7 linked regions of the Homo sapiens genome follow. The protein of the gene in region 5 purifies or fractionates together with the protein of the main gene of each other region. This does not show direct contact. Each region holds a gene or a part of one and is shown on either strand. Other genes may lie near its edges. The genes, in order: TAF6L, TRAP1, GDI2, EMC7, SLC8A3, CSGALNACT2 and MKI67.

What was found.
Region 1: the proteins of SLC8A3 (region 5) and TAF6L purify together in Homo sapiens (affinity purification with mass spectrometry; one large-scale study listed by BioGRID and IntAct). This does not show direct contact.
Region 2: the proteins of SLC8A3 (region 5) and TRAP1 purify together in Homo sapiens (affinity purification with mass spectrometry; one large-scale study listed by BioGRID and IntAct). This does not show direct contact.
Region 3: the proteins of SLC8A3 (region 5) and GDI2 purify together in Homo sapiens (affinity purification with mass spectrometry; one large-scale study listed by BioGRID and IntAct). This does not show direct contact.
Region 4: the proteins of SLC8A3 (region 5) and EMC7 purify together in Homo sapiens (affinity purification with mass spectrometry, with the first as the bait; one large-scale study listed by BioGRID). This does not show direct contact.
Region 6: the proteins of SLC8A3 (region 5) and CSGALNACT2 purify together in Homo sapiens (affinity purification with mass spectrometry; 3 studies listed by BioGRID and IntAct, with this or other methods). This does not show direct contact.
Region 7: the proteins of SLC8A3 (region 5) and MKI67 purify together in Homo sapiens (affinity purification with mass spectrometry; one large-scale study listed by BioGRID and IntAct). This does not show direct contact.

The regions. Positions count from the first base shown.
Region 1 is NC_000011.10:62,781,315-62,785,024, forward strand, and holds part of TAF6L (TAF6-like RNA polymerase II p300/CBP-associated factor-associated factor 65 kDa subunit 6L), read left to right. Parts: intron 1-579; coding exon 580-654; intron 655-798; coding exon 799-1,019; intron 1,020-1,141; exon of another isoform or gene 1,142-1,184; coding exon of another isoform or gene 1,185-1,378; coding exon 1,379-1,511; intron 1,512-3,710. UniProt on the Homo sapiens protein: Functions as a component of the PCAF complex. The PCAF complex is capable of efficiently acetylating histones in a nucleosomal context. The PCAF complex could be considered as the human version of the yeast SAGA complex.
Region 2 is NC_000016.10:3,661,823-3,665,809, reverse strand, and holds part of TRAP1 (heat shock protein 75 kDa, mitochondrial isoform 1 precursor), read left to right. Parts: intron 1-348; exon of another isoform or gene 349-1,350; coding exon 1,351-1,536; exon of another isoform or gene 1,537-2,247; coding exon 2,248-2,386; exon of another isoform or gene 2,387-2,842; coding exon 2,843-2,928; exon of another isoform or gene 2,929-3,164; intron 3,165-3,677; coding exon 3,678-3,823; intron 3,824-3,987.
Region 3 is NC_000010.11:5,796,234-5,800,220, reverse strand, and holds part of GDI2 (rab GDP dissociation inhibitor beta), read left to right. Parts: intron 1-3,358; coding exon 3,359-3,458; intron 3,459-3,987. UniProt on the Homo sapiens protein: GDP-dissociation inhibitor preventing the GDP to GTP exchange of most Rab proteins. By keeping these small GTPases in their inactive GDP-bound form regulates intracellular membrane trafficking.
Region 4 is NC_000015.10:34,084,681-34,088,667, reverse strand, and holds part of EMC7 (endoplasmic reticulum membrane protein complex subunit 7 precursor), read left to right. Parts: intron 1-534; coding exon 535-615; intron 616-2,301; exon of another isoform or gene 2,302-2,810; intron 2,811-3,987. UniProt on the Homo sapiens protein: Part of the endoplasmic reticulum membrane protein complex (EMC) that enables the energy-independent insertion into endoplasmic reticulum membranes of newly synthesized membrane proteins.
Region 5 is NC_000014.9:70,164,733-70,168,719, reverse strand, and holds part of SLC8A3 (sodium/calcium exchanger 3 isoform D precursor), read left to right. Parts: intron 1-235; 5' UTR 236-297; coding exon 298-2,081; intron 2,082-2,209; coding exon of another isoform or gene 2,210-2,279; exon of another isoform or gene 2,280-3,987. UniProt on the Homo sapiens protein: Mediates the electrogenic exchange of Ca(2+) against Na(+) ions across the cell membrane, and thereby contributes to the regulation of cytoplasmic Ca(2+) levels and Ca(2+)-dependent cellular processes.
Region 6 is NC_000010.11:43,151,895-43,155,881, forward strand, and holds part of CSGALNACT2 (chondroitin sulfate N-acetylgalactosaminyltransferase 2), read left to right. Parts: intron 1-3,002; 5' UTR 3,003-3,255; coding exon 3,256-3,916; intron 3,917-3,987. UniProt on the Homo sapiens protein: Transfers 1,4-N-acetylgalactosamine (GalNAc) from UDP-GalNAc to the non-reducing end of glucuronic acid (GlcUA). Required for addition of the first GalNAc to the core tetrasaccharide linker and for elongation of chondroitin chains.
Region 7 is NC_000010.11:128,105,665-128,109,651, reverse strand, and holds part of MKI67 (proliferation marker protein Ki-67), read left to right. Parts: intron 1-228; coding exon 229-3,987. UniProt on the Homo sapiens protein: Protein that associates with the surface of mitotic chromosomes and acts both as a chromosome repellent during early mitosis and chromosome attractant during late mitosis.

The sequences.
Region 1 (3,710 bases), on a different chromosome or scaffold from region 5:
CTCTCATAAAAACCTAAGTGGTATTATATTAAGCATCTGGTTTTATAGATTGCCTTTCTCAGTTAAAAATGTTGGATGGCCGGGCGCGGTGGCTCACGCCTGTAATCCCAGCACTTTGGGAGGCTGAGGTGGGCAGATCACGAGGTCAGGAGATCGCGACCATCCTGGCTAACACGGTGAAACCCCGTCTCTACTAAAAAATAGAAAAAATTAGCCGGGTGTGGTGGCAGGCGCCTGTAGTCCCAGCTACTCGGGAGGCTGAGGCAGGAGAATGGTGTAAAACCTGGGAGGTGGAGCTTGCAGTGAGCCAAGATCGTGCCACTGGGCGACAGAGCGAGACTCGGTCTCAAAAAAAAAAAAAAAAGTTGGACATTCAGGTTGTATTCAGGGCCATATGCAGGTATATGTGAATGAGTTTCTGTAGGTTACATTTATAGAAATAGAATTGCTAGATCAAAGAATATGAACATTAAAATTGTAAAACATGAATAAGGTGATACACTGTCTTCCAGAAGAATACCGCATTCATGTTTTACAATTTTCTGGTGGATCCAATGCAGTCTGGGCCCTTCCTTTTAGGTTGCACTCCAGGACTTGCAGACGAACTCCAAGATTGGGGCACTCCTGCCTTACTTTGTTTATGTGGTCAGTGGGGTAAGTGACCAGGCTGGGACAGGGAGAATGTTTTATAAGGAAGAGATGACCCAGCAGGTGTAGGGCTCATGGCAAGTGCTGTCAGAATGGTGGGCTCCTGCCTGTCCCCTCATGTCCCTGTAAGCTACCCTCTTCTCCCAACAGGTGAAATCTGTAAGCCATGACCTGGAGCAACTGCACCGGCTGCTGCAGGTGGCACGGAGCCTATTTCGTAATCCGCACCTGTGCTTGGGGCCCTATGTCCGCTGTCTGGTGGGCAGTGTCCTCTACTGTGTCCTGGAGCCACTGGCTGCCTCCATCAACCCCCTGAATGACCACTGGACTCTGCGGGATGGGGCTGCCCTCCTGCTCAGCCACATCTTCTGGTAGCCACTGGGCCTAAACCTGCGGGTGGGATTGCTGCAGAGCCAAGTGGGTTGGGGTAAGGAAATGGGGCGAAGCCTCTGGCTTTGAGAGTCTATGAGAAGATGGGGAACCTTTTCCCTAGGAGCGTCCTAGCTGGTGTGCTGTGACACACTGGGATTCTGAAAATGGATTACAAATACGCCAAGGTATTGGTTCTTCAGCCCTCAGGTCCTAGGCCAGTCACCCCTGGCAGCCTTCTTCACTTAACCCCAGCACTCCCGAGTGTGCTGTACAGATGCTATTCTCTTTGTGTTGTCTTGTGCCCTGTTGGGTGGCACCATGCCTCATTCCCCTCCCTAACTGAATGGTGCTCCCACAGGACTCATGGGGACCTTGTAAGTGGCCTCTATCAGCATATCCTGCTATCCCTGCAGAAGATCCTGGCAGATCCTGTGCGGCCGCTCTGCTGCCACTATGGAGCCGTGGTGGGGCTGCATGCTCTTGGCTGGAAGGTGAGCACCCTGGCCTTTCTCACACAGCCGTAAGAACTCCCATTTGTGTTAGAAAAATAGTACTTGTGCATCGTTATCTCCAAAATAGTGTGTGCCTGCCACTGCCATGTATTGAGTTCTGGCCTTAGGCCAGGCTCAGTGATACTTGACTTTCTGAATGTAAATGTCTTATCCTTTCGAAAGTCCTATATGGCAGATACTGATGTCCCCACATTTTATAAATTCCTGCCCGTTCTATATTATCACATTAAGAAATACCTTCAATTCCTGTTGTATTGAGCATTTTACACATGAATAGATACTGAATTTTGTCATACCTTTTTAGCATCTGTAGAAATTATCAAATGATTATACGCTTTAAAAATTAGGTGTTGGCGCCGGGCGCAGTGGCTCACGCCTGTAATCCCAGCACTTTGGGAGGCTGAGGTGGGCGGATCACAAGGTCAGGAGATCGAAACCATCCTGGCTAACACGGTGAAACCCCATCTCTACTAAAAATACAAACAATTAGCCTGGTGTGGTGGCGGGCGCCTGTAGTCCCAGCTACTCGGGAGGCTGAGGCAGGAGAATGGCGTGAACCCGGGAGGCGGAGCTTGCAGTGAGCCGAGATTGCGCCACTACACTGCAGCCTGGGCGACAGAGCGAGACTCTGTCTCAAAAAAAAAAAAAAGTTAGGTGTTGCCACTGTGATAATATTAAGAGGGAGGATCTTTTTTTTTTTTTTTTGAGACGGAGTTTTGCTCTTGTCGCCCAGGCTAGAGTACAGTGGCATGATCTCAGCTCACTGCAACCTCTCCCTCTTGGATTTAAGCAATTCTTCCACCTCACCCTCCCGAGTAGCTGGGATTACAGGCACGTGCCACCATGCCCACCTAACTTGTATTTTTAGTAGAGAGGCAGTTTCATCATGTTAGCCAGGCTGGTCTCAAACTCCTAGCCTCAAGTGGTCTGCCTGCCTCGGCTTCCCATAGTGCTGGGATTATAGGCATGAGCCACCACGCCCAGCCGATTATGTGGTTTAATATGACAAGTTCTATTCTGTTGATATGCTAGGTGTATTAATGGATTCTTCTTCTGAACCACTTTTGTATACCTGGAATAAGTTCTATTTGTTGCTTTTGAGATTTTTGTTTTTTTGAGATGGAATCTTGCCAAGATGGCGCCACTACACTCCAGCCCGGGCGACAGAGTCTCACACTGTCGCCCGGGCTGGAGTGCAGTGGCGTGATCTCGGCTCACTGCAACCTCCACCTCCCGGGTTCAAGTGATTCTCCTGCCTCAGCCTCCTGAGTAGCTGGGACTTACAGGCACGCACCACCAGGGCCAGTTAATTTTTGTATTTTTAGTAGAGACGGGGTTTCACAATGTTGGCCAGGATGGTCTCAATCTCTGGACCTCGTGTTCCGCCCGCCTCGGCTTCCCAAAGTGCTGGGATTACAGGCGTGAGCCACCGGTGCCTGGCCATATATATATATTCTTAATTTTTTTTTTTTTTTTGAGACGGAGTCTCGCTCTGACACCCAGGCTGGAGTCCAGTGGCGCCATCTTGGCTAACTGCAACCTCCGCCTCCCGGGTTCACGCCATTCTCCTGCCTCAGCCTCCCGAGAGTAGCTGGGACTACAGGCGCCCGCCACCATGCCCGGCTAATTTTTTGTATTTTTAGTAGAGACAGCGTTTCACCGTGTTAGCCAGGATGGTCTCGATCTCCTGGCCTCATGATCCGCCCGCCTTGGCCTCCCAAAGTGTTGGGATTACAGGTGTGAGCCACCGTGCCTGGCCTATATTCTTAATTTTATCATCAATTTATATTGGATTTTTATCAGATGGTTTTTCTGCATCTTTTGAAATGATCCGAAGGCTTTTCAGCTTTTGTTTTCCAATGTTATTACAGATTTCCTGATAGTAAACAATCTTTATAGTTCCATGATACACTAAACTATGTCATGGGATAGTCGTAAAGAAAAAACCCAAAGCTTTTATTGGACTGTAATGCATTTTAATTTACTTGTGGGTCTGCTAAATTTTAAAAGGGTTTATATTCAGGAGTGAAATTAAACATGTTTCCTCTCATGTACTGTCCTTGTCTGGTTTTAGAATCAGGGTTATACTGGCCTTACAGAATGATGTGGGGAGTATTTCTTTTTTATATTTACTTTAATAAGATTTAGATCATCTTTTTCTTTTCTTTTTTTATTTAA
Region 2 (3,987 bases), on a different chromosome or scaffold from region 5:
GGCCTCTGGCACCTTCCAGGCACATCCTTACCCTCCCACCAGTGCTGTGCTGTGCTCTGAAGGGCTCAGCCTCACTGCTGTGTGAAGGTGCAGCCCAGGGAGTGGCAGGAAGAGGGCGTGCACACACTGTCTCCCCTCAGAGGATGTTGGGGGCTGGGGAGCCACAGACAGGTGGGACAAGCCAAGGACTCCGATCCCGTGGGTGGGGAAGTGGGTGGTCTCAGTGTCTGTTGAGGGACTATTCATCATGTACTGGATATCAGTCTCCAAATACTATGCTACAGGGGCCAGTCGTTCAGTTAATCCAATAGTGGATGGCTGAAAAACGAAACATTTGTTCCATAAACATTTTTTGTCCATTTTTTATTGAGATACAACTTACATAGCATCAGATTCACAGAATTCACCTTTTAACACGTAAAATTCAGTGGCATTTAGTGCATTCACAGTGTGGTGTGGCTGCCTCCACTGTAACCCCAGAACATTTCATCCCAGGAGCCCATCCCGTGCTGGTGTCCCTTCTCCCCAGCAGCAGGAGGAGGGTGACCACGTGTGTGGGGTCCCAAGGAGGCCGTGTTCTGGTTGTTTGCCGACTTCGGCAGCTTCTGACACAGGCCTCTTCATTCTCCTTTATCTTCATTTGAGTTAACAGCACACAGGTAAGAGTCAGAGACATTTCTAGGTCTTTGTAGGTGTGCACGTGTGACATGTCTTATCAATGCAGACCCACCATGTGTGCAGGGGTGGCCTGGGCCCTGCTGGTTGGGTGTCCAGCTCCTTGCTTTTCCCTCTTTCTGTTTTCCCCCTGCGTCCTTCCAGCTGCAGCTCCCATGAGCTCTAGAGGTCACAGCTGCGTTCAGCTGATGGGGAGGAGGGCAAACCCCTCCCCTAAGGGCCCTTCTCCAAATCCCACTGAAACCCACTGGGCAAAGCCAGTCTCTGCCATAGCCAGCTGTGAGGAGGGCCGGGAACCGTGGACTTCACCCGTGTCCGTGTGCCCACCAGAGACTGACTCTGTCACTGAGGGCAGAGGGAAGACGCTGGGTCCAGGCCGGGCTCTGCTGTTGGGTGGGGTCCCCTCCCAGGGCGTGGTGCGCGTAGCTCCCTGGAGAGCCCCTGGGCCACCTGGGGCAGGAGGTGCTTCCTAAGCCCCCAGAGCTCCCAAAAGGGGCCTGATGGGCAGAGCAAGGCCTGCTCTCGGACAACCCCCGAGTCCACTACCGTCCCTCGGGTCAGGGCCAGCCTGGAGTGCCAGGAGGCCATGGGCATCGGAGGGTTTGCGCCCAGTTAGTTGGGCAACATTGAGCCCATGGGCCTGGAATAAGTGGTGACCTGCCCCGTCCCTTCTAGGAGGACATAGCAAAGCTGCTGCGCTACGAGTCCTCGGCGCTGCCCTCCGGGCAGCTAACCAGCCTCTCAGAATACGCCAGCCGCATGCGGGCCGGCACCCGCAACATCTACTACCTGTGCGCCCCCAACCGTCACCTGGCAGAGCACTCACCCTACTATGAGGCCATGAAGAAGAAAGACACAGAGGTGGGTGAGCGGTGGGTGGGGCGGGCTCCGGGGGCTGCAACCTGGGGAGGGTCTTGACCTTCTCAGCTCTGTGCTGGGTGAACCTGCCCAAGACTCCGGGCAGGGCTGCACAGTGGGTCAGGGTCACGGGCACAGAGGCCGGACCGACTGTGACGGCTGTTTCCCACTTGGAGGTCACATGTGGTTTTTTTTGTTTGTTTTTTGTTTTTTTGAGATGGAGTCTTGCTCTCTCGCCCAGGCTAGAGTGCAGTGGTGCGATCTCGGCTCACTGCAACTTCCGCCTCCTGGGTTCAGGTCATTCTCCTGCCTCAGCCTCCTGAGTAGCTGGGACTACAGGTGCACACCACCACACCCAGCAAATTTTTGTATTTTTAATAGAGACGGCATTTCACCATGTTGGTCTCGAACTCCTGACCTCATGATCTGCCTGCTTTGGCCTCCCAAAGTGCTGGGATTACAGGCGTGAGCCACTGCACTCAGCCACATGTGGATTTCTTTATGCGTGGAGTGCTTCTGCCTTGAAGGCAGTCAGAGCCTTCCTTAGACCCAGGTGTCGTAGTAACTGTCATGCAGGCCTAGGAACCCCAACTGCCCCGGTGTTCCCCAGTGTGGCCCGCTTGGCTCCCCCAGCCCTCCTGCCGCCCTCATCCTTTCTTCTGTGGTGGCTGGAGGCCCCCGGGGTCTGATGGAGCTGCTCTTGGCCACCTGCAGGTTCTCTTCTGCTTTGAGCAGTTTGATGAGCTCACCCTGCTGCACCTTCGTGAGTTTGACAAGAAGAAGCTGATCTCTGTGGAGACGGACATAGTCGTGGATCACTACAAGGAGGAGAAGTTTGAGGACAGGTCCCCAGGTCGGCATCCCCTGCTCTCTAGGCGTGGGGCTGGTTTCCACTCCCCGCACGCCTCTCCTGCCCCGCAGCGAGGGCTTCCTTTGGGTTTTCGTCAGTTGACCTGGGCTCAGCCACCCCCGAGAAGAGCCTTGTGGGAGCACCCTGGTGACTGGAGGAAGGTGCCTCCTGGTTTAGATATCAGGGGTCTGTCCAGTGCTCCTGCCACGGTGGCTTCTGGAGCTGGCCCAGCTTCTTGAGAGGCTGTGTATTTTTTTAAAGCCCTAACCAAGTTGTATGGGCCTCAGGCAACCTGAAGCATCCTTTGAGGTTTTACTTTTAGATGAAAAGCATCTTGCTAGCTTGTGTCTCCATCCTGGTGGGAGAGGAGGTGGGAGCTGGAAGCATGCTGCGTGGCCCCCATGGAAGCCGGGGAGTTGGGATGCAGGCCTGAGCTCCCTGTCGCCTGCTCTTCCGCAGCCGCCGAGTGCCTATCAGAGAAGGAGACGGAGGAGCTCATGGCCTGGATGAGAAATGTGCTGGGGTCGCGTGTCACCAACGTGAAGGTGAGGCTTTCCCGGGGATGGACCACCACTTGGCCGCAGTGTCCCTAACAGGCTGGCCAGCTGGTGGCTCCCAGTACCTGGCCCGTTGGGTGTCCTTCCAGCAGCAGCAGAAGCCCTTGGTGTCAGGTGGAGACCCTGTGGGTCCCTGCTCGGCACGTGTTGCTCGGGAGTGCCGCTGAGGCAGGAAGGCCGTGTCTTTCTCCCAGCCCTGCTCCAGAGCAGGTGTGAACTGAGAACTGAAAAACCAGCATCCTGAGTGGGAGCTGCAATGGCTGAGGACGTGGGGGTTCCAAACAAGGGACATGCTACCCCAGCCCTCAGGAGCTCACATGCTCACTTGGGTGCTTAGTCGGGGGTTTTGGGTGGGCTTCAGAGAGCTAAGACTCCCCCCACCAACCTGTCTAGCTCAGAGTGAGAAATGAGCGTCCCATGCATGGTCACTTGGAGGAAGGGGCCTCATGCAGGGTGGGCTGGCATGGAGCAGAGGACGATGGATTCGGGCAGCTCCTGGAGGCAGCAGCGGGGCACCAGGGTGGTGGAGCCCCTCGGGCACAGTATCTTTGCGTGGGGCATCAGCTCAGGGCCCACAAGTTAGTGGGTAATGGGGAGGGAGCAGCGCTGGTCCAGGGGAGTCCTTGAGACCCCGCCTGCTACCTCGTGGTCTGGGTGACCTTCACCCCTGGTAAGATCCTGCCAGCCCTCTCACATTGGGAACCTCTATCACCCTCAACCCCGGGCTTTGCTCACAGGTGACCCTCCGACTGGACACCCACCCTGCCATGGTCACCGTGCTGGAGATGGGGGCTGCCCGCCACTTCCTGCGCATGCAGCAGCTGGCCAAGACCCAGGAGGAGCGCGCACAGCTCCTGCAGCCCACGCTGGAGATCAACCCCAGGTGAGGCCACGCTCCTGGCTCTTCCAGCCTGTGGGATTCCCCAGAATCCTGTGTGTGGTGTTCTTTTGTTGTGGAATGTGACACAGAAGAAAAGTGCGTGAGGCCTGTGGACATGTGGGTAACTATAAGGAGCTGTATGCAGTTTAGGCTGCACCCATGTGAAA
Region 3 (3,987 bases), on a different chromosome or scaffold from region 5:
AAGTTACATGACTACAAAGCTTAGTTCCTTTTGCTATACTGCCTTGTTTCCTACTTTTTTTGAACGTGGACACATAGCATTTCCACAGTGTGTTTTAATATATTGATTGTTTTTCTGCGTGAGGTTTGTTGAACACCTACGTATATGGATATGATGTGTACTGTGTCTTATGGGAGATAGATATCATCAATGACTTTAATCAGTGACTTATTAGACAATACTTACCAAAAAGGATTTTTTTCTATATTCAGTAATACTGAAAAGTTTAAAGAATAATACGATGTATAAAAAAATCTTCCATCAGAGTTCAGCAGTTAAAGTTTGCTGTATTTTTTTCATGTCTCTTTTTTTGTTACTGGTTTTGATCCATTGAAAGTGATAAGACATCATGAGGCTTGAGCAAAATATTTCAGCATTCATCTGCTAAGAATAACATTCTCCTGCATAAGCATAATACCATTATATCATATCCAGAACCATATTCAAATTTCCCAGTGGTCCCAGTAATCTCTTACGTAGCTGTTTGTATTTGGTATAATTTTCTCTTTATTCTCTTATTTATTTTTCTGGAGACAGAATCTTGCTCTGCCGCCCAGGCTGGAGTGCAGTGGCACAGTCTCGCCTCCCTATGGCTTCCACCTTCTGGGTTCAGGTGATTCTTCTGCCTCAGCCTCCCAAGTAGCTGGGATTAAAGGCGTGCACCACCATGCCTGGCTAATTTTTGTATTTTTAGTAGAGACGGGGTTCCACCATGATGGCCAGGCTGGTCTGGAACCCCTGACCTCATGTGATCTGTCTGCCTTGGCCTCCCAAACTGCTGGGATTACAGGCATGAGCCACCACGCCCGAGCGCTTTATTCTTTGTTGTTGTTGTTTGTTTTTAAGAGACAGGGCCTTGCCCTGTTGCCCAGGCTGAAGTGCAGCAGTGCGATCGTAGCTTGCTGTAGCCTTGAACTCCTGGGCTCAAACGATCCTCCTGTATCAGCCTCCTAAGTAGCGGGGCTAAAGATGCATACCACCTGCCTGGCTTATTTTATTTTTTGTAGAGATGGGGTCTCTCTGTGTTGCCCAGGCTGGTCTCAAACTCCTGGCCTCAAGTGATCCTCCTACCTTGGTTTCCCAAAGTGTTGGGATTATAGGTGAGAGCCACCATGCCTGGGCACCTCTTTATTTTCTTAATCTACAAATCTCCTCACAATTTTTTTCTTTTCTTAATTTTGTTTTATTTTATTTTTATTTTTATTTTTTTGAGACAGTCTTGCTCTGTTGTCCAAGCTGATGTGTAGTGGTGCAGTCTCGGCTCACTGCAACCTCCATCTCTTGGGTTCAAGTGATTTTCATGCTCAGCCTTCTGAGTAGCTGGGATTACAGGTGTGGACCACCATGCCTGGCTAATTTTTTGTATTTTTAGTAGAGATGGGGATTTCTTCTTGTTGGCCATGCTGGTCTCGAACTCCTCAAATGATCTGCCTGCCTTGGCCTTCCAAAGTGCTGCGGTTACAGGTGTGAGCCTCTGTGCCTGGCCTAGTATATTTCTTAGCTGATCTTCAATACAATGAGTAAGATTTCTTTTCTTTTTTTTCTCCCCAGATGTATTGAGGGAGTCATGAATTTTTTCTTTTTTTTTTTTTTGAGATGGAGTCTTTCTCTGTCACCCAGGCTGCAGTGCAGTGGCACGATCTTAGCTCAGTGCAACCTCCACCTCCTAGGCTCAAACGATTCTCGTGCCTCAGCCTCCCGAGTAGCTGGAATTACAGGCGTACATCATCACGTCTGGCTAATTTTTTGTATTTCTGGTAGAGGTGGGGTTTCACCATGTTGATCAGGCTGGTCTCGATCTCCTGGTCTCAGGTGATCTGCCTGCCTTGGCCTCACAAAGTGCTGGAATTACAGGCATGAGCCACCGCACCCAGCCAGAATTTTTATTGAATAAATACTTACTAATTTTGCTTATTCTTTTCCACCTTAGCAGTAGGATTCATGAGCTCAAGTGACTGTTCTCTAACTTTATAAGCTTTTTGAAATCTGAGCTTCATTTCAATTCATGTGAATTATAAATTAATTTGAGTATTCTTACCACAAAACATCATAAAAGAACAAAAGGACAATTTTGGAGGTGATGGATATGATTGGTACCTTATGGTGATGTTATGGGTGTACCTTGTGTCTAGACTCACCAAAATGTATGCAGGAAGTAGGCAGTTCTTTATGTATCAGTTATACCTCAGTAAAGCTCAAAAATTATAAATGAACTAGAACTAATTTTAATTATCTTTTCTGATTAGGAAGAATCTAAGGTTTATTTTGAATTCCTTACATAATACAAAAGCAAAATTAAGCCTTTGATAGCTTTTTATTTGGGAGAGAATGAATTTAGATGATTGCTATTTGTCAGTGACACCCTAGTTCTGCATATACAGTCCGTATAGAGAACTATACAGTGTCATTGACAAATAATCTTGTTTTATTTATTTATTTCTTGAGATGGAGTCTTGCTTTGTCACTCAGGCTGGAGTACAGTGGTGCCATCCCAGCTCACTGCAACCTCCACCTCCCAGATTCATGTGATTCTCCACCTCCCAGATTCATGTGATTCTCCTGCCTCAGCCTCTCGAGTAGCTGGGCTTACAGGCACACACCACACCCCGCTAATTTTTTTTTTTTTTTTTTTTTTTTTGAGATGGAGTCTCACTCTGTCACTAGGCTGGAGTGCAGTCACGCTATCTCGGCTCACTGCAACCTCTGCCTCGCATGTTGAAACGATTCTCCTGCCTCAGCCTCCCGAGTAGCTGGGATTACAGGCATCTGCCACCATACCTGGCTAATTTTTGTATTTTCAGTAGAGATGGGGTTTCACCATCTTGGCCTGGCTTTTCTTGTACTCCTGACCTCCTGATCCACCCGCCTCGGCCTCCCAAAGTGTTTGGGATTACAGGCATGAGCCACCATGCTTGGCCAATTTTTGTATTTTTAGTAGAGACGGGGTTTCACTATGTTGGTCAGGCTGGTCTCAAACTCCTGACCTCAAGGGATCCACCCGCCTCATGGATTACAAAGTGCTGGGATTACAGGCATGAGCCATTGCGTCTGGCCTTGTTTTATATTCTTTCTTTTCTGCTAGTGAAAAACCTTACTTCTGCCATATTTGTTAATTTTAACATTTATGAGTTTAGTAATTAATTTACATATATATTGGACCTTGCTAAAAATTTTATCTGATAAAAGATGAAATGCCCTTATACTTTACTAGCATGGTGGTGTTTAGTTATACTAAAAGCACTTAATAAAAAATATGTACATATTGTAATAAAAAATTAAATTTTGTTAACATTATGGCTATGTTTTTCCTTGCTTTTAGTTATACAAAAGATTTAAAATACCAGGATCACCACCCGAGTCAATGGGGAGAGGAAGAGACTGGAATGTTGACTTGATTCCCAAGTTCCTTATGGCTAATGGTAAAGAATTTCTAACTTAAATTTATGACAGTACTTTGATTACAATTTTAATATCAAAACTAACTTTTGACAGAGTACTATTCTGGGTATGAGGAACTGGATTTTGTTGAATGAAACAGCATGGTGAGTAACATGGTCCATTAGATGTCTGGAGTCAATAAGTTAGGAAAGGAAGGAAGGGGTTGTGACTTACTAGTAATTGGTTCTGGAGAAACAAATGATGCTGTGGCATAATACATAACAAGATTGTAAGCCTTTGGCACAGACTTACCTGTTGATGCTTATGACAGTCTTAAATAACTGGGCCTTTTGAAACAGCATTATTTTAATGTTTTTCTAGTTTGTAGGGTTTTAAAATTTTCACATTTTTTTAATTTTAGAGGATCTAAGTTTTCTTTTTCTTTTTTTTTTTTTGAGACGGAGTCTCGCTCTGTCACCCAGGCTGGAGTGCAGTGGCATGATCTTGGCTCACTACAACCTCCGCCTTCTGGTTCAAGCAATTCTCCTGCCTCAGCCTCCCAAGTAGCTG
Region 4 (3,987 bases), on a different chromosome or scaffold from region 5:
ACCTTCCATGTTCTCATTTCTGAAATTCCGTGGAAGTGTATCTAGTGCTCCAGTGCTTGATGCTTCTAGGTCATTTTTCAAAACTGGTCTGCTAAAGTAGGTCAGTTTTCCAAGAACCACAGTCACCTGAAAAGAGCAGTTAGCTTGCCATCAGATCACCAATCCCATTGCCAGACTATAGATTAAAAAAAAAAAAAAAGGGAATAGATAGTTCCATTTGCAAACTATTTGTGTTAAATAACACTGTAACTCTGCAAAAAGATAGGTGGGTGGCACAACTATGAAGTGAGGTGTCTATAAAGTCCAAACATACATACAGAAAACTTTAATATTCTATAATAGTCCACCATAGTCAGACAGACAGCCCCTTGCTATCATCAGAACTGGCTCAGTAGAATTGCGGTGGTTGCTACTAGTGTTATTGTATAGACAACGTTTAAATCTTTAATTTTACCATTGGTTGTTAAGTGCAGTTTTTGTTCTATTAACTGTAAAGTGGGGGAAAAACATTTTCTGGATTTTTTTTTTCTGCAGGTTATGATGATGGTTCTTCCTTTATTGATATTTGTGCTTCTGCCTAAAGTGGTCAACACAAGTGATCCTGACATGAGACGGGTAAGATGATGGTCCAGCTATGGATTTTTTTTTTTTTAAGAGATAGAGCCTCTGTTGCTCAAGCTGGAATGCAGTGGCACAATCAGTTTGAGTGGCCTCAAACTCCTGGGCTCAAGCTATCCACCTGCCTCAGCCTCCCAAAGCACTGGGATTATAGGTCCGAGGCACCATGCCTGGCCCCACCTGTGGGTTTTTGAACCGTATTGTGATGTTTGCTCTGTCCCATCGTAGCTGGGTAGCTTAGTTTTTCTCAATTTTATTCTAGTTCCCAAGCCAAATTAATCTAGAGGTTGTATTAACATAGTATCATGTTTATGGCTTTTAATTAGTTGCTTCCATTAGACTAGATAAATTGTTAGTTCTGCCTGGCCTGGATCTCTTTATGTAGCTAAAACATCTTACTGCATCCTAGCCTCTTTGTGTGCCTTACTTTTTAAATAGCTGAAATGTACAATACTTCTGGTATGCTGAATCTAAATATTTTACAAAGTGATTGTTCCTGTGATCTGCCTTTACTTTACAAAACTCTCTTCAGAGTACATACTCAGTTTATGTGTTCAGACACACAGATAGACCAAGGGGGATGGATAAGTAGAAGAGTGACCTTTGAATTCTGTTCCACAAAACCATACTGGTTCTGCAGAGGGAGAGGATTTGCTAAGTAGGATGCTTCCAATTTAGTGCCACCACATTTTCTCTTTGAATATTGGCTTCTATTTGAACTCTTCATTTTTTCAAAAAACCATCATGCATTTTTCCGTTCAACCATCAACAAGTATCTTCTGAGTTTCAAGGTTCCCCATTTTATTTAGTATATAGATGTGGTGACATTTTATTCATTCCTGAGTAAACATTTATCAATTTCTAGGGTCTAGATACTGGAGATACAGAAATGAATTATAGGCCATACCTGTCATCAGTAGGCTCAGTCCCAGTTAAATGTAGAAAATAGAATGGATTTATCAAATATTCTTCTTGCTATCAGGGGATTTTGTGACTTTTTCTTTTCTTTTTTCTTAATAGAAATTTGTCTTATTTCTTAAAGAAATAAGGTAAATAAAAATGTTTGCTAAGGTAGTAGGTGATTATGTTCTGTGGAAGGTAATAAGGGGTATATTCAAAGCAGGAATGGCAGAAAAAGATTCATAGGAAAAGAAAGGTTTTTGATATTTCAAAATGTTTTATTGGTGAATGTTTGCATTTTTGCTTCAGTGTTAGACTGAAAGTAATACATCCTGTGCATTCCTTGTATATGTTAAGCCAATTAACTGTGGCATCAGTAGAAGGAAACATCAGAAGTCACATTTGATTAAAAGTTCATTCTGGCCGGGCGCGGTGGCGCAGGCCTGTAATCCCAGCACTTTGGGAGGCCAAGGCAGGTGGATCACCTGAGGTCAGGAGTTCACGACCAGCCTGACTAACATGGTGAAACCCCGTCTCTACTAAATACAAAAAAATTAGCCGGGCATGGTGGCGCATGCCTGTAATCTGAGCTACTTGGGAGGCTGAGACAGGAGAATCGCTTGAAACTGGGAGGCAGAGGTTGCAGTGAGCTGAGATCGTGCCATTGCACTCCAGCCTGGGCAATAAGAGCAAAACTCCGTTAAAAAAAAAAAAAGTTCATTCCTTGTGAAGTGCTTTGCACATAGTAAGCATCTTAAAAAGTTGATTCAAGAGCTTCAGAAGCTCTCTTCCTTGGCACTGCCTGCAGAGGTGGCACCATCTCCTACTTGGCATCATGGCTGCCCTCAGATCCTTTGTGAAGCCCAAGATCATCAAAAAGACAACTAAGAGGTTTATCTGGCACCAGTCAGACCAATATGTCAAAATTTAGCTTAACTGGCAGAAACCTAGAGGTGTTGACAACAGTGTTCGTAGAAGATTCAAGGGCCAGATCTTGATCCCCAACATTGGTTATGGGAGCAGCAAAGAAACAAAGTACTTACTACCCAGTGGCTTCTGGAAGTTCCTGGTCTACAACATCAAGGAGCTGGAAGTACTGCTGATCTGCAACAAATGTTACCGTGCTGAGATTACTCACAGTGTTTCCTCCAAGAACCACAAAACCATCTGGAAAGAGCAGCCCAGCTGGCCATCACAGTCACTAGTCCCAATGCCAGGCTCCACAGTGAGGAAAAGGAATCAACGGCTCTCATGCATGTTTTATTTGTGTTTAAATAAAACCACAAAAACTGAAAAAAAAAAAAAAAAAAAAGGGGAGCTTCAGAATTGAACAGATTCAAAAATAGAGTTGATATATGTTTGCAGGGACTCAAGAGCTGTTACCATATACATTTATTTCTTAATTATTGGGGCATGTTAACATACTTGATTTATGTTTACAATATTTCTTTCGCTAGCCTTATTTGTAAAAGCAACTTCTCCTTTAAAATTTAGGAATCAATTCTACCTTTGTGGGAAAAGCTCAAGCTAATATCCCAACAGTGTTCAATTTGAAATGGAAGCCTAGTGCTGTGCTGTGTGCCTATAGTCCCAGCTGCCCAGGAAGCTGAGGCAGGAAGATCACCTGAGCACTGTCTCCTAAAAAAAAAAAGAAAAGAAAAAAATGAAAGAAATGATAGATAATATAGTATTTGCTATCTTTTTCATGTATGAATGAACTAAAGTCAATTTTAAGTTCACTTTGAGAATGTCACTTAAAATTTAAATGAAGCAGATGTTACATTAATATTATATAACTATCAAACAGTACTTTATAGATTTTTGGCTCAATTAAAGGGGAGGACAAATACTCAAAAGTGCCAAGTCCTATCCTGTTTTGCCAATGACTTCTTTGTAACAGTGTGTTGCTTGCTTTAGAGTCTAATTGAAGTCATGCAAGCCATACAGCATTCATAGATTTACTACTGAGGCTTATAAATGAATTCTTAGAAATATTGCACTTATTTTCCAAACTGTACTGATACCTTGATATATAGTTAAAAATTAATATTCTGGTTATATGCATCTAAAGGAAGCATGAACTTAAAAATGTACTCATTAAAACAATAAGAAATCACTTTAATCAGAAAACATAAAATAAGAGAGGAATATGATCAAATATATTCAGTATCAGAAAAAAGTGTTCTTTATTAAGACAAGCAGAATCACACGAAAGGGAACATCACACACAGGGCCTGTTGTGGGGTGGGGGGAGGTGGGAGGGATAGCATTAGAAGATATACCTAATGTTAAATGATGAGTTAATGGGTGCAGCACACCAACATGGCACATGCGTACGTATGTAACAAACCTGCACGTTGTGCACATGTACCCTAAAACTTAAAGTATAATAATAAAAAAAAAAAAAGGCAAGCAGAATCAAACCCTAGGCAGTCATTTATTGGACATTTACTAAGAGTCAAAATGTCT
Region 5 (3,987 bases):
CCCAGTATTCCCAGCTATTTCAAGCCATTTTTCAACGGAGTCTCCACCAGATGGTTTGGAGGACAGAGCAGCTATTTGTGCCTCCCATTGACATCTATTTTTCCAAGTGAGAGACTGCCCCATATGTTAGTGCAATATGTCACTGGAGGTGAAGCATCAGTTGTATTGGTGGGAACCTGCCGTTTGCTGTCCCCTTTTTCCTCATGCCTTTTCCTGCCTCTCTGATCTTTTCTAGGTCTCTGGCCTATCAGGAGGACAACTGGTGCTGCAATAGAAGCCAGTGGCTAAGTCTCGTGTATGGCGTGGTTAAGGTTGCAGCCTCTCACCTCTGCCTTCCTCCATTTTGGGCTGGTTACCTTTGTGCTCTTCCTGAATGGTCTTCGAGCAGAGGCTGGTGGCTCAGGGGACGTGCCAAGCACAGGGCAGAACAATGAGTCCTGTTCAGGGTCATCGGACTGCAAGGAGGGTGTCATCCTGCCAATCTGGTACCCGGAGAACCCTTCCCTTGGGGACAAGATTGCCAGGGTCATTGTCTATTTTGTGGCCCTGATATACATGTTCCTTGGGGTGTCCATCATTGCTGACCGCTTCATGGCATCTATTGAAGTCATCACCTCTCAAGAGAGGGAGGTGACAATTAAGAAACCCAATGGAGAAACCAGCACAACCACTATTCGGGTCTGGAATGAAACTGTCTCCAACCTGACCCTTATGGCCCTGGGTTCCTCTGCTCCTGAGATACTCCTCTCTTTAATTGAGGTGTGTGGTCATGGGTTCATTGCTGGTGATCTGGGACCTTCTACCATTGTAGGGAGTGCAGCCTTCAACATGTTCATCATCATTGGCATCTGTGTCTACGTGATCCCAGACGGAGAGACTCGCAAGATCAAGCATCTACGAGTCTTCTTCATCACCGCTGCTTGGAGTATCTTTGCCTACATCTGGCTCTATATGATTCTGGCAGTCTTCTCCCCTGGTGTGGTCCAGGTTTGGGAAGGCCTCCTCACTCTCTTCTTCTTTCCAGTGTGTGTCCTTCTGGCCTGGGTGGCAGATAAACGACTGCTCTTCTACAAATACATGCACAAAAAGTACCGCACAGACAAACACCGAGGAATTATCATAGAGACAGAGGGTGACCACCCTAAGGGCATTGAGATGGATGGGAAAATGATGAATTCCCATTTTCTAGATGGGAACCTGGTGCCCCTGGAAGGGAAGGAAGTGGATGAGTCCCGCAGAGAGATGATCCGGATTCTCAAGGATCTGAAGCAAAAACACCCAGAGAAGGACTTAGATCAGCTGGTGGAGATGGCCAATTACTATGCTCTTTCCCACCAACAGAAGAGCCGTGCCTTCTACCGTATCCAAGCCACTCGTATGATGACTGGTGCAGGCAATATCCTGAAGAAACATGCAGCAGAACAAGCCAAGAAGGCCTCCAGCATGAGCGAGGTGCACACCGATGAGCCTGAGGACTTTATTTCCAAGGTCTTCTTTGACCCATGTTCTTACCAGTGCCTGGAGAACTGTGGGGCTGTACTCCTGACAGTGGTGAGGAAAGGGGGAGACATGTCAAAGACCATGTATGTGGACTACAAAACAGAGGATGGTTCTGCCAATGCAGGGGCTGACTATGAGTTCACAGAGGGCACGGTGGTTCTGAAGCCAGGAGAGACCCAGAAGGAGTTCTCCGTGGGCATAATTGATGACGACATTTTTGAGGAGGATGAACACTTCTTTGTAAGGTTGAGCAATGTCCGCATAGAGGAGGAGCAGCCAGAGGAGGGGATGCCTCCAGCAATATTCAACAGTCTTCCCTTGCCTCGGGCTGTCCTAGCCTCCCCTTGTGTGGCCACAGTTACCATCTTGGATGATGACCATGCAGGCATCTTCACTTTTGAATGTGATACTATTCATGTCAGTGAGAGTATTGGTGTTATGGAGGTCAAGGTTCTGCGGACATCAGGTGCCCGGGGTACAGTCATCGTCCCCTTTAGGACAGTAGAAGGGACAGCCAAGGGTGGCGGTGAGGACTTTGAAGACACATATGGGGAGTTGGAATTCAAGAATGATGAAACTGTGTAAGTAACCTTCCTGTATTCTGCCCCTCCCTGACCCCATCTTTTGCCATCTCTTTCTGTCTTTCTGTACTGCACTTTACAACATTTCCTTGTGTTTGTGTTAATGTCAAACTTTGGTTCCATCACAGGTATGCAGGATCAGCAGACACCACTGGACAGGTTCTGCTTCCAAACTCTTCTTCAGTTTTCTCACTTTAAATTGTTTCTGGGCAAGGAATCCTGTGACAAGAGCTAAGGACACAAAACATTTTCTTCTCTGAAACACAAAATGATAGCTGGTGGAGCTGTGGGATGACAGAAGTTTTGTGATATCAGATTTTGGAGAATTCTTGTGACTAAGAAGGACTAGAGAACTGCTTGGGCCTCTTCTTCCTCCCTTCCTCATATGAAGGGTATCTATGAGCTTTGAAACCAATCCTTTCCATTCTGGGCAGCAATAGCCCATCAGAACATTCTAAAGAAAACAAGTGGCATTGGCTTTGTTCCCTGGTACTATATTGCCAGTCTCACTGTGTAACCAGATTCCAGGCACGTCTTCTTTAATTTGGAAATTGCAAAATTGATAGAAATTTAGCAATCTTTTTAAATGACCATAGACTATTTAATGGTGTGAGGCTTGCCCAGCCTAGTTGAATTGAGTCAGTATGGTTTGGATACTGGAAAGTATCTTGGAGAAGCAGAGCTCCCAGGGCAGTGGCTACTTGTCTTTAGTCACAGGTCTAAGCTCCAAAATCTGGTGAAGCAGTGAAGGAGAAACATCCTAGGAATTGTGGGAGGAAATATATCTTCTGTGTGGTCCTCTCTTTTCACAGTCTAGGACTCTCCTGAAGTACCTCTTCTTGGGCTACTGCCCCATTCAGCCCTTCAGAAACTGTGGGTATTACACTTCTGTCACCTCTATTACCCTAAGGCCTCTGCCCATTGAACCCTCTTGCAAATTGGTTATTCTGTCCTTTTTCCAGTTGGATAGCTTTAAAAGGGAAAGCAGAATGACTTTCCTCAGGATTTGTAGCTTATGAGAAAGTAGACTTTCTTGGGTGGCCTAGAAGGTTGGAGAAGACAAACGGGAACTTCCTCTGAATGACTGAACATATCCACAAATAATAAGCGTGGCAGGAGATGGTGTGAAGAGTAAAAGGAGCATATAGGAAGTTGTGTGTGTGGGGTGTCTGTTTCAAGAACCTGCTAATTATACCTTCAGTAAGAAATGAAGCCATACAACCTCTAGAAGAGGAGGAGGAAGGAACTCATGGAAAAGTGGGGAGCCATAGAAGCTAGGGAGAGGTGTCCTAGGAGTGCTTCTGCCCAGGTCCAGCCATGAGACAGAGCTCAAAAAGAGCTGGGCACTGCTGGTGACAGAACTGAGTGACCCGGGGGATCCTGCATCTGTTCTTACTCAATCCCTTCTTAATAATGTGACTTGGGGCAGGTCATTTATTGGTTCTGGAACTTAACTTTCTGATATGCAAACTGGGAATAACAATACTTTCCTTGCCTGGAGGCAAGGTCAGTCCTTTTTGCAGTTCCTTCCAGCTCTAAGATTTTCTGAACCATAGACATAAGCACTCAGTGTAGGTCATATTCGCACTTGCCAAAAATGGATCAGGGGATATTGTCTCCTGAAGGGAAATGGCCATTGACAAATTGATTTATTAGAGCTCTGTTTAGTCATTTTGCTGGGAAGGATAATCATTTGTTAACGTAAGTAGAAACCTGTGCCTTCTGGAGAATACTATCCATTTATATGTACTCTGGGGAGAGTGTTTATACATACAAATGAAGGACAGGGCTTCACTGGGAAAACAAACTCCATGGAATTTCACATGATTATCGCGATGTCAGTGTGGAAGAAGATATGGTAAGGCATTAAATGACATTAAGACCACAAAATTTGCCATAATTTGAC
Region 6 (3,987 bases), on a different chromosome or scaffold from region 5:
TGGGTTTGTTGGCAGGAAAAGTTGTTTGTTTGTTTTTGGTTGTTTCAAGACAACCAAAGAGAGCAAATCTGAGAGTAAATCTGGCCCGTTACTTCATCTTGGTCGTAAAAGGAAGTCAGTTTTTTAAGCAGTTTTAGAGAGTTAGAATTGATGGCTTGTAAGGTTTCTTTCAATCCTGAGATCTTTGGCTTCATATTACATACCTTTAACAGCTTATTTTCCCATCTTCACATTATCCTTTTCTCTCCTCAAAACACTTAACTATCTGCATTTGTGCTTAGAAGGCTTGTTGGGATTAACTCTGGGCTGTGAATGAACCGTATTCATGATACAAACACATTTCATAGAATGATGACAATCAAGATGTAACAACAGAAAAATGTTTTCTATAATATTCTTAATATATTTATATGATAGAACAGCTATAATGTAATCTTCTAGATTATGGCCAAAGAGTTTCTTTCGGGAACTAGGCAAATAAGATTTTAATTGAAATCTTTCATTTTTAATAACCACAGAATTATGCAACTTTTACATTCTGAAGTAATTACAGTATCCTTTCATTTTATTGGAAAATATTCAACTGTAATATTAAGTAGGATATCTCAAAACCTGTATTTCCCTTAAAGGGAAGAGGAAGAAAAATGACCTTAGCTTTTTAACACTGCCACTGATAATTTCCATTCTATTTTATTGAAAAGTAAACCTTCAGTAGTGACCTATTGTCTGAGTTATAGCTCATAGTCTAAAATACATTGTGTATATAAAGAAAACATATGAGGTACCATATTAATAAAAGATAGTGGTAGTTCTGTTACCCAGTTTCACTTCAGTTTTGAGTATAACATGCTTAAGTATGTATATCTTTATTAATTAAAGTATGTATATCTTTATTATACAAGATTATGTCTCCACATTTTCAGTTCTTTTTCCTAATAAATGGGCTAGTAATAGTTAAAACAGATACCGCTAGGTTTATCTTTTAAATAATGAAATTCAAGTGTTTTCTTATGCTAGGGATTATGGTTTTGAGGTATGGTTAAGTCCTGGAAATAATACTAGTTATTTTTTGATTAGATGGTATTTCTTAAAGCCAACTATTTTTTTTCTGTTTTTTTCTACATCACTCAAACAAGATTTATAATCAGTAAGAGAGATGCTGTAATAGTAAAAGACTCCCTTGGCCAGGCGCGGTGGCTAATCCCAGCACTTTGGGAGGCCGAGGCGGGCGGATCACGAGGTCAGGAGATGAGACCACGATGAAACCCCGTCTCTACTAAAAATACAAAAATTAGCCGGGCGTGGTGGCCGGCGCTTGTAGTCCCAGCTACTCGGGAGGCTGAGGCAGGAGAATAGCGCGAACCCAGGAGGCGGAGCTTGCAGCGAGCCAAGATCGCGCCACTGCACTGCAGCCTGGGCGACAGAGCAAGACTCTGTCTCAAAAAAAAAAGGACTCCCTTGTAGTGAGTTAAATTTTTCAAGATACTTGGTTATCATTTCGTTTACTAAAATAATAAATGACTAAGGAGAGTTAAGACCATTATTTGTGGTATATTGGCCATAAGAAGTTTTCTTCTGTCCTATGTTTTATACAGACATGTTACCAAAAAAAAAAAAATACGCATTGCAGCATTTGCCACAGAAAGCATCCAGGTTTTTCTACTCATTAAAAAAGTGGCTAGGACTGATAACCTGTAGTGATCTTCCAGGTTTTGCTGCAGTGAGAAAACCATTACTGTTAAAAACCTGCTGTCATATCACATTATCCTTCTCAACAAGCACTTTGTTACAATGGAAGTTCTCTTTGCAGTGGAGTCCTCCTTGCCTCCCTTGTCCTAAGTTAAACCTCTATTTTTAGAGTTAAGAATCATTAAAGACATGGAAGAGTTCGCACAACTGGTTGTGGCATGAACGATAGCATGTAATTTTATAAATGTATAAATGGTTTTTGAATTTTTTTCTCTGCTGATAAGGATGATTAAATTCTTCATGTTTTTTCTTTATATAGACTCCAAACCTTTCTAGACTTGTAGGAAATCTGTTGATGCATAATACAGTGGAAAGAATTATGTGATCTAATGTGCAAATAATCTACTGGAGGACATTGGATATAAAAATGTTTTCTTAATGTGTTTTTCAGATGTCTGTGAGCTTTTGAAGTTGTTCTTTCCCCCACTTAATTTTAAGTCTCCTAGATTGGCTGAGCTGAGCAGTAGAAATTAATGAGGTAGAATGCTTGAGTTGAATAAACTGGGAGAAAATCTCTCTCTCCAGTAAACCGTTATTACTGTAACAGAAACAGTTTCTATAAACTCAGTTCCCAAATGGTCATAAGCTTTAGTTGGGAAATGGTGCGGTAATTGAAATACTATGTTAATAAAGAGTTATAGGCAATATAATTTTCAAATAATTAGAGAACAGTAGAATATATGTAATACAGACTATGCTGACGTAATTTTAATGTTTCTTTGATTCAAGTTATAGCTGTGTAGACATAATAGTTAAAAGTATTATACATAGTTTATTGTTTTTTAAGGTATTTTAAAAAATTCTCCCAGGCCAGGCTCAGTGGCTCACACCTGTAATCCCAGCACTTTGGGAGGCCAAGACAGGCAGATCACCTGAGGTCAGGACCAGCCTGGCTAACATGGTGAAACCTTGTCTCTACTAAAAATACAAAAATTAGCTGGGAGTGGTAGGCAGATGCCTGTAGTCCCAGCTACTCAGGAAGCTGAGATGGAAGGATCACTTGAACCCAGGAGGCAGAGGTTGCAGTAAGCCAAGATTGTGCCACTGCATTCCAGCCTGGGTGACGGAGTGAGACTCCATCTCAAAAAAAAAAAAAAATTCTCCTAGTATTTACTGAATATTCTAAATTATATTAGTACCTCTCATAGTTCTCTGCATGTAGTAGTCACGTAGCTAAGTTTACTGAAGCCACAAACAAATTTGATATCCTTAAGGGAACAAAATTCTGATTGATTCTGATCTGTGTCTTTCAGAAAAATCACTACCAATATAATGGATTTTATATATCAGATTGCTTTATTCTGGATATCATGGTAACAATACAGAAAGTATACATAATTTCCCATTTCTGCAAGTAGTCATGACTGCTGAAGAAAGAAAAACTTAAAGCTACGGCAGAATTATTTTATGGAAATTCTGATTTTGTTTTTAATTTTTGATAACTTTTTACTAAAGGTATGAACACACAAAGAGCTTATTTTGTTAGGCAAATACACATTAATAAGAATGCCTAGAAGAGGACTGATTCTTCACACCCGGACCCACTGGTTGCTGTTGGGCCTTGCTTTGCTCTGCAGTTTGGTATTATTTATGTACCTCCTGGAATGTGCCCCCCAGACTGATGGAAATGCATCTCTTCCTGGTGTTGTTGGGGAAAATTATGGTAAAGAGTATTATCAAGCCCTCCTACAGGAACAAGAAGAACATTATCAGACCAGGGCAACCAGTCTGAAACGCCAAATTGCCCAACTAAAACAAGAATTACAAGAAATGAGTGAGAAGATGCGGTCACTGCAAGAAAGAAGGAATGTAGGGGCTAATGGCATAGGCTATCAGAGCAACAAAGAGCAAGCACCTAGTGATCTTTTAGAGTTTCTTCATTCCCAAATTGACAAAGCTGAAGTTAGCATAGGGGCCAAACTACCCAGTGAGTATGGGGTCATTCCCTTTGAAAGTTTTACCTTAATGAAAGTATTTCAATTGGAAATGGGTCTCACTCGCCATCCTGAAGAAAAGCCAGTTAGAAAAGACAAACGAGATGAATTGGTGGAAGTTATTGAAGCGGGCTTGGAGGTCATTAATAATCCTGATGAAGATGATGAACAAGAAGATGAGGAGGGTCCCCTTGGAGAGAAACTGATATTTAATGAAAATGACTTCGTAGAAGGTAATGTGAAAAATATGTTGGTCAATATTATGTTAGTAAGACAAATGCTAGTATTGTATGCTGGTATTGTA
Region 7 (3,987 bases), on a different chromosome or scaffold from region 5:
TCAGCATCTAACTTTGCTTAATGATGACCCCACTATAGCACCAAATAACATTATTCTTAATTGTGCATGGCTCTTATAAGACAGATTTATAGACACATAAGTAGCCTCATGTCGTTCAGTGAATACGAAGCTAAATATTTAGTTTTTTACCATATTTTATGAGGCTGTAATACTCGATTGACATGAGACACTAATAGAATGTTTTTATTGTGTATGTTTTTATTTCAGGAGGAAATGTGTTCTTCAGTGCACAGAATGCAGCAAAACAGCCATCTGATAAATGCTCTGCAAGCCCTCCCTTAAGACGGCAGTGTATTAGAGAAAATGGAAACGTAGCAAAAACGCCCAGGAACACCTACAAAATGACTTCTCTGGAGACAAAAACTTCAGATACTGAGACAGAGCCTTCAAAAACAGTATCCACTGCAAACAGGTCAGGAAGGTCTACAGAGTTCAGGAATATACAGAAGCTACCTGTGGAAAGTAAGAGTGAAGAAACAAATACAGAAATTGTTGAGTGCATCCTAAAAAGAGGTCAGAAGGCAACACTACTACAACAAAGGAGAGAAGGAGAGATGAAGGAAATAGAAAGACCTTTTGAGACATATAAGGAAAATATTGAATTAAAAGAAAACGATGAAAAGATGAAAGCAATGAAGAGATCAAGAACTTGGGGGCAGAAATGTGCACCAATGTCTGACCTGACAGACCTCAAGAGCTTGCCTGATACAGAACTCATGAAAGACACGGCACGTGGCCAGAATCTCCTCCAAACCCAAGATCATGCCAAGGCACCAAAGAGTGAGAAAGGCAAAATCACTAAAATGCCCTGCCAGTCATTACAACCAGAACCAATAAACACCCCAACACACACAAAACAACAGTTGAAGGCATCCCTGGGGAAAGTAGGTGTGAAAGAAGAGCTCCTAGCAGTCGGCAAGTTCACACGGACGTCAGGGGAGACCACGCACACGCACAGAGAGCCAGCAGGAGATGGCAAGAGCATCAGAACGTTTAAGGAGTCTCCAAAGCAGATCCTGGACCCAGCAGCCCGTGTAACTGGAATGAAGAAGTGGCCAAGAACGCCTAAGGAAGAGGCCCAGTCACTAGAAGACCTGGCTGGCTTCAAAGAGCTCTTCCAGACACCAGGTCCCTCTGAGGAATCAATGACTGATGAGAAAACTACCAAAATAGCCTGCAAATCTCCACCACCAGAATCAGTGGACACTCCAACAAGCACAAAGCAATGGCCTAAGAGAAGTCTCAGGAAAGCAGATGTAGAGGAAGAATTCTTAGCACTCAGGAAACTAACACCATCAGCAGGGAAAGCCATGCTTACGCCCAAACCAGCAGGAGGTGATGAGAAAGACATTAAAGCATTTATGGGAACTCCAGTGCAGAAACTGGACCTGGCAGGAACTTTACCTGGCAGCAAAAGACAGCTACAGACTCCTAAGGAAAAGGCCCAGGCTCTAGAAGACCTGGCTGGCTTTAAAGAGCTCTTCCAGACTCCTGGTCACACCGAGGAATTAGTGGCTGCTGGTAAAACCACTAAAATACCCTGCGACTCTCCACAGTCAGACCCAGTGGACACCCCAACAAGCACAAAGCAACGACCCAAGAGAAGTATCAGGAAAGCAGATGTAGAGGGAGAACTCTTAGCGTGCAGGAATCTAATGCCATCAGCAGGCAAAGCCATGCACACGCCTAAACCATCAGTAGGTGAAGAGAAAGACATCATCATATTTGTGGGAACTCCAGTGCAGAAACTGGACCTGACAGAGAACTTAACCGGCAGCAAGAGACGGCCACAAACTCCTAAGGAAGAGGCCCAGGCTCTGGAAGACCTGACTGGCTTTAAAGAGCTCTTCCAGACCCCTGGTCATACTGAAGAAGCAGTGGCTGCTGGCAAAACTACTAAAATGCCCTGCGAATCTTCTCCACCAGAATCAGCAGACACCCCAACAAGCACAAGAAGGCAGCCCAAGACACCTTTGGAGAAAAGGGACGTACAGAAGGAGCTCTCAGCCCTGAAGAAGCTCACACAGACATCAGGGGAAACCACACACACAGATAAAGTACCAGGAGGTGAGGATAAAAGCATCAACGCGTTTAGGGAAACTGCAAAACAGAAACTGGACCCAGCAGCAAGTGTAACTGGTAGCAAGAGGCACCCAAAAACTAAGGAAAAGGCCCAACCCCTAGAAGACCTGGCTGGCTTGAAAGAGCTCTTCCAGACACCAGTATGCACTGACAAGCCCACGACTCACGAGAAAACTACCAAAATAGCCTGCAGATCACAACCAGACCCAGTGGACACACCAACAAGCTCCAAGCCACAGTCCAAGAGAAGTCTCAGGAAAGTGGACGTAGAAGAAGAATTCTTCGCACTCAGGAAACGAACACCATCAGCAGGCAAAGCCATGCACACACCCAAACCAGCAGTAAGTGGTGAGAAAAACATCTACGCATTTATGGGAACTCCAGTGCAGAAACTGGACCTGACAGAGAACTTAACTGGCAGCAAGAGACGGCTACAAACTCCTAAGGAAAAGGCCCAGGCTCTAGAAGACCTGGCTGGCTTTAAAGAGCTCTTCCAGACACGAGGTCACACTGAGGAATCAATGACTAACGATAAAACTGCCAAAGTAGCCTGCAAATCTTCACAACCAGACCCAGACAAAAACCCAGCAAGCTCCAAGCGACGGCTCAAGACATCCCTGGGGAAAGTGGGCGTGAAAGAAGAGCTCCTAGCAGTTGGCAAGCTCACACAGACATCAGGAGAGACTACACACACACACACAGAGCCAACAGGAGATGGTAAGAGCATGAAAGCATTTATGGAGTCTCCAAAGCAGATCTTAGACTCAGCAGCAAGTCTAACTGGCAGCAAGAGGCAGCTGAGAACTCCTAAGGGAAAGTCTGAAGTCCCTGAAGACCTGGCCGGCTTCATCGAGCTCTTCCAGACACCAAGTCACACTAAGGAATCAATGACTAACGAAAAAACTACCAAAGTATCCTACAGAGCTTCACAGCCAGACCTAGTGGACACCCCAACAAGCTCCAAGCCACAGCCCAAGAGAAGTCTCAGGAAAGCAGACACTGAAGAAGAATTTTTAGCATTTAGGAAACAAACGCCATCAGCAGGCAAAGCCATGCACACACCCAAACCAGCAGTAGGTGAAGAGAAAGACATCAACACGTTTTTGGGAACTCCAGTGCAGAAACTGGACCAGCCAGGAAATTTACCTGGCAGCAATAGACGGCTACAAACTCGTAAGGAAAAGGCCCAGGCTCTAGAAGAACTGACTGGCTTCAGAGAGCTTTTCCAGACACCATGCACTGATAACCCCACGACTGATGAGAAAACTACCAAAAAAATACTCTGCAAATCTCCGCAATCAGACCCAGCGGACACCCCAACAAACACAAAGCAACGGCCCAAGAGAAGCCTCAAGAAAGCAGACGTAGAGGAAGAATTTTTAGCATTCAGGAAACTAACACCATCAGCAGGCAAAGCCATGCACACGCCTAAAGCAGCAGTAGGTGAAGAGAAAGACATCAACACATTTGTGGGGACTCCAGTGGAGAAACTGGACCTGCTAGGAAATTTACCTGGCAGCAAGAGACGGCCACAAACTCCTAAAGAAAAGGCCAAGGCTCTAGAAGATCTGGCTGGCTTCAAAGAGCTCTTCCAGACACCAGGTCACACTGAGGAATCAATGACCGATGACAAAATCACAGAAGTATCCTGCAAATCTCCACAACCAGACCCAGTCAAAACCCCAACAAGCTCCAAGCAACGACTCAAGATATCCTTGGGGAAAGTAGGTGTGAAAGAAGAGGTCCTACCAGTCGGCAAGCTCACACAGACGTCAGGGAAGACCACACAGACACACAGAGAGACAGCAGGAGATGGAAAGAGCATCAAAGCGTTTAAGGAATCTGCAAAGCAGATGCTGGACCCAGCAAACTATGGAACTGGGA